Homo sapiens: one gene and its partner. The protein of the gene in region 1 purifies or fractionates together with the protein of each later gene. This does not show direct contact. Each region holds a gene or a part of one and is shown on either strand. Other genes may lie near its edges.

Evidence for each region.
Region 2: the proteins of KCNMB2 (region 1) and MSRA purify together in Homo sapiens (affinity purification with mass spectrometry; one large-scale study listed by BioGRID and IntAct). This does not show direct contact.

The regions. Positions count from the first base shown.
Region 1 is NC_000003.12:178,542,789-178,546,641, forward strand, and holds part of KCNMB2 (calcium-activated potassium channel subunit beta-2), read left to right. Parts: intron 1-3,853. UniProt on the Homo sapiens protein: Regulatory subunit of the calcium activated potassium KCNMA1 (maxiK) channel. Modulates the calcium sensitivity and gating kinetics of KCNMA1, thereby contributing to KCNMA1 channel diversity.
Region 2 is NC_000008.11:10,239,292-10,242,791, forward strand, and holds part of MSRA (mitochondrial peptide methionine sulfoxide reductase isoform a precursor), read left to right. Parts: intron 1-3,500. UniProt on the Homo sapiens protein: Has an important function as a repair enzyme for proteins that have been inactivated by oxidation. Catalyzes the reversible oxidation-reduction of methionine sulfoxide in proteins to methionine.

The DNA of each region.
Region 1 (3,853 bases):
GCCCTTTCTAGACACGCTGTATAATGGAGTATTAGAAAACCAGTTTCACAGCCCTGAATATCTTGGTTTGAATCCCAGTTCTGCGTCTTGCCTGAGTCTCCCTTTCCTCAGAAGGAATGTAGGTAGTAATGGTATATTATTCATGGGGTCACAAGGATTAAATGAAATAACCTGTGCCCAGGTGTTAGCACCATGCTTGGCACAAATTAGTGCATACTGCCTATGACCTATTTGTATTAAACTATTATCATCTAAGATGAAACTATAAACTTTAATTGCATGTATTATAATACTGCAAGATTTGGTTTAAAGGTCCCCTTTAGTTTTTACTTCTTGGCATGTCATGTCTCCAAATTCATTCAATAGATGTCATTTAAGAGTCATTTGACCAGAACCAGAAACCAATTTTCCTGAAATGTATGACATTTGCTCACTGCTTATTAGGCCCAAAATGAAAGAAGCAATTCTGGAAAAATCAAAGAAAATGTCTGCCTCTCTGAGATACCAAACCTAATTTTATAATTCACATACCTGGGACAGAACTTCAACCCAGTACCTTGTCAGACTTCAGCTTCAACATGTCCAGTGTCTTCACTCTGTCTGTGGCTGCGCTGACTGAAACCCTGAGAAACTGACCAGGTGAATGCATGATCATACAAATGACTTCAGTGCACAACGTGCATGAAATTGGGAATTAACCTCATCAGTTACTCTAGATTTAGCATTAATTTTTGAATCCAAAGGGTGTTTCATTTAATTGCTCAATAAAAATGTCACTACCTCCAATTAAACTATTGGGAAACTCTCAAATCCTGATCTACTACATAGGTTAAACTTTCCTTTTCTTTGGTCAATTCTGAGCTTCATTCTGTACCAAATAACTTCTCAAATTTCCGATTCCTGAAGCTTGGTAACTAATGGTTGAATTTTGGGGGATGTGTTCTTTAATATTTTGTAATTTCTCATATCTTCCTCTGTAAGTGCAACTGGTCCCGACACTAGTATATCTCTCCAAAAGTGTGTATGTGTCACTGTCATAAAAATGTCACAGATTTTTAAGATTGGATTTTTTTCTTAATCTTCACAATATGTTTCTCCTTTTTGTTGCAAGAATACTCTGTGCATAATTCTACCACGGTCCTTAATACATTATGCTGTGATATTTGGTTCACTTATCTGCCTCCTTCCACCCCTCCTTAAACTGTAAGTCTCTGAAAGGTTAAGGACTAGGTCATCGTCATCACAGTACTTTCAATGCCTAGCACAGTTCATGGCAGTAGTTAATGCTCAATAAGTGTTTCTTGAAAGAACAAATCAATCATATCTATAGTATATTTCTTAGTGTCCAGTTTGACCTAAAAAGGGTAAATGCCCACATGGTCAAAAAAATCATACACCTCAGAAATACAGTGCTGCAGGGAATTATTTTATAATAATTAAGCCCTGGATCTGCCATGGGCTCACTAAACTCTCATTCACCTGTCCTCTCACCTCTTCTCTTTATATTCCCAGGCCCACATCAGATGCTCTTTCAGAATGTTTCTCTCTCCCTTCCTCTCTGCTGTCTGCCCACAGCCACTACCCTATTTTTCTAAAGCACATGGTGGGACCTTCCATTCAAAGCTGACTTTGAGTTTGACAGTTCAGACAGCAAATGCCTAAACCCCCTCCTCATCAAAGCCCGGGTGACAGATGATCCTGGGTGAGAATTTCAGCTCTGGAGAGGGGAGGAAATGAATAAGCAGTCAAATGTCAAGTCTGCTGACTTCTTAGGAAAGAAAGAGAAGATACTTATAATACTGGACAGGAGGGCTTTGGCTTACATTTGCCAGCATTATACTAAATAGGGAAAATGTCAGCTGAGTCCCACATGTAGATTCCTTGTCATCTTGGTGTTTTCCTGAGTGTAAAATTAAAACTCCAAAAGATTCTGGACATCAGAGCTCATTTTCAGTTTTCAACAAATCTATCTGATGAGAAAAAAAATAGGCAAGTAGTAAAATATGCAACTAAAATTTTAAAGTCTAATTTTTAGCCAGATAATTAGGTTGCAAACTCATTGAAAGCAGCAACGATGTTTTTTATAAATCTCAGGTGACTAGAACTATATTAAGTATATACAATAGGTTTTTTAAAAACAACCTCTTGATTAATATATGCCCTCCTCCTTACCCTGTCCCCTGAGGTAAAGCCATATTAGGGAAATCAAGTAAATGCCTTATCTTTATTTACCAGACTGCTTGACTGGGGATTTAGGGTTCCAGAAACCACACAAGTTTTAATTCCACAGAATCCCCTTTGCACACCATGGTGTAGAGAGGGCTCTTATAGAAGGGGAAGGAAAGAGCAGCTTGTGAGTTCTGATGCTGCCCGTTTGTTTGTAGAATCCTATCACTCACAGGCATTTCTATGATTGGAAATCATTTACAAAATTAGTCCACATAGGATTCTTACTAAAGAGGATTCAATTTGGGAATTTCTCGAAATAAAGCCCTTACTACACTATGTGTGTCTGGGAATGTCACTGACATAGTTCAGGACTTCATAAATAATGAGTTTGGTTTTGTAAGACGTTTGAAGTCTTTTCCTCATTGGATTTTTCACTGGAAAGCTGGTAAAGGTCAAGCACCTGACTCCATAACTCATCCACAAAGGTAAAATATCTCTCAAAGTAAAACTCTGAGAAAGTTAAAAATAGCCAGCAATTCAAATGCAAATCTAGAATCTTTCTTGCTTTGCATCAGATGCAGAGAATCATTCCGGACATGCTGCATAAGGCACTTTATGAGAAGGATAGAGAAGCAGTTGGTAAATCTTGCTCGTGAGATAATTCTTGAATGTCTTGAGTTTGGTTTTGCATAAACATCTGAAAATTTTAGACTATATGAAGAATGTATAGTCCCATCAAATTGAACTAAAACTCCTACAGAGGGATTCTATTTCTGTAGAAATTCTGGAACTATTGGTTGTCTCTGGATTGTTTGTTTGTTTCCTACTATATTTCAAATGAGGAAATTAGAAGGGGGAAAAGAAACCTGACATCCAGAAGAAAATAATACCTAATTTTAGAGGCCACATTTTCATCGCATTTTGACAGGATTGGTCCCATTTCTCCCTCTCTGTGAAGATGATCATTCACTGGTTTAACTTTGCTTCATGGTGGTTTTATCTGTGTGGTGCTTGGGAACAGCCATGTGAGGCTCTCTGTGTAGATAACTCAAGGTAACTGTTTGCTTTGAAAACATAAAAATAGAACAGCACAGGACTCATTTCTCTGTTGGAATGAATCAAAAGAAAAGTTGACAGAGAAATAAAGTTTATGTACAAAGGAGAAGGAAGGTTTAGATAACATATACCCAAATATGAGAAAATTTTTGTAGATATAGAAAATATAACAATAGAACTGGTACAAAGAAAACTGGCTAGAGAATGTCTATAACAATCTGCTTCTCAGTCTTCTAGGTCTATTTCCCCATTGACACGTGGATTTAGTGTTTGCTGAACTGAAAGTGAAAAAAACTGGTATAAAGAAAACAAATGTGCTCTGATTTACATGCCTAAATGAAGAAAGCTATCTTTTTTCATATAAGCATATAAAGTTGTAATTTTGATTTCAGGCACATGATGGTGTTTAAGTACATTTATTGCAGCTTGTATTCTAGTGAGAAGTAATAAGAAAATTAATAAACAAGATAAAAAGGAAGCTACTTACTTCACCACAACCTATGAACGTCCTAAGGTGTCTACACGTTTTAAAAATTCATTCTCCATCCTACTACCCTTTAAATTATAGCCTGTTACAGGGAGTAAGTGGGGACTGTGCCCTGACAGAGTGTCAATGTGTCTGGAGAGC
Region 2 (3,500 bases), on another chromosome or scaffold:
GCTGGGACTACAGGCATGTACCACCATGCCCAGCTAATTTTTGTGTTTTTAGGAGAGACGGGGTTTCACCATATTGGCCAGGATGGCCTCGATGTCTTGACCTTGTGATCCACCTGCCTTGGCCTCCCAAAGTGCCGGGATTACAGGCATGAGCCACCACCCCTGGCTCGAAATATGATTTTAAGCCCATCCAATTGGCAAATATTTATATACTTTGTAACACCAAATGCTTGCAAGGGTGTGGCACAACAGAGATCCTCCTACACTGCTTATAGGACGATTGTACCTGGCAAACTCCTTTTGCCTACTTGTCCCTGTAGCAGTGATCCCAGAGTGCCCAGGCAATAGCTGTATCTTATAACTCAATGGAGTCTTGCTATATTCCCAGATAAAAGTGTACTGTTTTGGGGACTAGGACCTCTAACTCTACAGAGCCAAGAGTGTGGGAACAAAAGCTACAAAGTCTCCCAATGGGTCCCTGAGATAGTAAATGAAGTCAATCCTGTTTCTCTCCTTTGCTTTCCAAACACGTGTATTATTCATTTGGGGAACATGGTGTGTCCCTACCTTTGGAGTGTTTGATTCAGTGTCCTGGAGTCCGGCACCCACCTGCACAGTTTGTTCACTGAACTGGTGCTGTGGCTGTGCCTTGGGGCTATTCCAGTGCTTTTTCAGGACGGCAGTTCCTGGTGACGTGCAGTAAAATAAAACAGGTGGAAACCAGCTGTGGGCTCACTGCTGCATTTTCCTTGCTGCAAAGTGAGTTGCTTGGTCTGATGGATGTTATTTAGGGGACAGAAGTTGGCCAAGACCCTGAAGGCAGGAAAGTCAAACACGTGCCAAGAATACATGTATGTGAGTGTAAGAACACATCACTGGCCCTTTCAGCATGGAAGGGGCCCGGTGTAATCCTTTGCCACCTTATGGTGGGTTGGTCCTCTCAAGGAGTGGTGCTGTGTGAGGCACTTGGTGACAGTCTCTGTTGCTGGCCATTTGGACATTTGGTGGTGGCAGTAGCTAGGTGGACCTTGGTGAGCGGGTGTGCATGCTGTTGGGCCATGTGTAACCTATCTCTGCCATTGTGGCCAGTTCGTTCCTGCATCCATTACGCAGGTACTAGGGTAGCCAGTGAAGACACTGGCTGGCATCCCCTGGCTGGGCCCCTTTCCATGCTTTGTGGATGAGTGCCTCTTTCATGGTAGATGCCCTCTGGCTGGCATTATCATGTGGTAAAGAGATCTTCATGCTGCATACTCACTCCCACATGTCCACCTATGTCTCTCTACCCCAGATTTCCTAATTCTTCCTCTTCCAGTCTTTGTGTTTCTGGCCTCTGACTAGGCAGCCAAGCCACTTGCTGCTGCCCTTGAGTCCACAGCTGTCCTGAACTTGGGCTATTCTTCCCTCTCTGAAGGAACCAGTTGGGAGGATTTTTCCCTTACCCCTGTCTTTCCTGGCCACTCTAGAGTAAGGCTGCAGTGGAGCTGCCCTGCATTTCCAGCCTGCACCCATATAACAAACCAACCATTCAACACCCCACCCCCCGCACCCCCATCCCCCAAATCGGCCTTTCTCTCTGCCCCCAGCTGGTTTTACAGGATCGCCACACAGCCGTAGGTGCGAAGTGAGGGAGGGAGTTGGTGCAGCCTGGTGGGTGCTGGGGGAGTCTGGCTTCCTATTCGTGCAGCTCACGCGTGCCCTCTGGTCCTGCTTGTGCATGATTCCCGATGTACAACTTCCTCTTTATGATAGACTGTGGCTGTAGCCCCTTGACCTTATAATCTGGTGGGTCTGATGGGACTTACCTTTTGATGGGAAATTTCAGCCACATCATCCCCTAGTGCTCCATGGCTGCCATGGTGTGCACTGTGCAGTGTGCTTCATTATCACCCATGTCATGATCTTGAAGTGCTTTTTCCCATTAAACTAGGCTTCTTGGTGAAATGGTCGATTCTGGGACTGGGGTAGGAAATGTGCAAGGTGAGTCTGGGACATCCTGTCAAACCAGAGAGCAAAGAAGCTATGAGACAACTGAGGAGAAGGAGCCAATTTGAAGAGGGTCTCACTGGCCAAAGATATGACTGCTGAAGCTTACATGAGAGCAGTCATTGAAACGATCAAATATGTTTAAATGAATATGTTTGTGATGATGTTTAAAAAACTCTTCGATTAGCCTGGGAGATAGCAAGTTCGTCATCTTGAAGACACTATGTAAATGGATGAAGCAAGCATTTATCTTCCCTGTCCCATGTGAATTGTACCACTGAGTAACAAAGTAGTAGCTGAGGGGAAGCTTTTCATTATAAGGTATGAAAATGAAGTGATAGAATTAGAAGATCACTATTTTGCAACTCTCCAGGAATTAATACATCTAGGCATTGAGCACCCATCAATGCTAACTAGACATGAAAGAGACAACTAGACATTTTGTGCTTTCTAATCAAAGACCATCCATAGCCCCACCTCTAGTCTTGCCAGAGGATCAAGTCTGAGTCTGATGAAGCCTCTGGATCCAATTGTCAACTTGCAGAAAGTTGTCCTCTGAGGACGGTTGTGTGAATTGAATTGCACCATGAGAACACAGTCCTCAGAATCCACAGTGTGAGAAACTGAACAGGTCAAGTAGACTGTGATCTTCAAGGGATAAGGTCAAAGGAAAAGAATGGAGACAATGTGTTGATTAAAATGACTTAAAGACAGCCGGATGTGGTGGCTCACGCCTGTAATCCCAGCACTTTGGGAGGCGGAGGGGGGCAGATCACCTGAGGTCAGGAGTTCGAGACCAGCCTGGCCAACATGGCGAAACCCCATCTCTACTAAAAACACAGAATTAGCCGGGCATGGTAGTACGCGCTTGTAATCTCAGCTACTAGGGAGGGTGCGGCAGAAGAATTGCTTGAACCCGGGAGGTGGAGGTTGCAGTGAGCCGAGATTGCGCCACTGAACTCCAGCCTGGGTGACAGAGGGAGACTCCATCTCAAAAAAAAAAAAAGAACTTAAAGACGTATCAAATTTAAAAAAATGAGCAAGACTATAATGTCAGGGGTGGACACTTAGATGATAAAGTGTAAGAAACATAGGAAGTGATTACTGTGAAAGTCAGATAACGGTTGCTTTTTGGGCTATAAGGTTTCTGTTGGGATTGGAGTGTAGCACACAGGGAGGCATGTCTAGGGTAGATGGCAAACTTCTGATTCTTGACCCAGGTGGTGGTTGTAAGGGTGTTTGCCTAATAACAGTGCATTGAAATATATGTTTGTTTTGTGTGGTTTTTTTGCATCAGTTTTGTTTTATAACAAAAGGCTAAAAATAAGTATTTAAAGAAAATAGTGCATACTATATTTTATTTGCTGATATTCATAATGATCACCAGATTATTGAAATTTATGAGTAATTTTGCTATAAATAAGCCTGTTTTCTTTGTTTAAACACACACACACACATTTTCACACTCACACCTTCAAAGCCACATAATAGAATGTTTAGCTTAAACCTGCAGC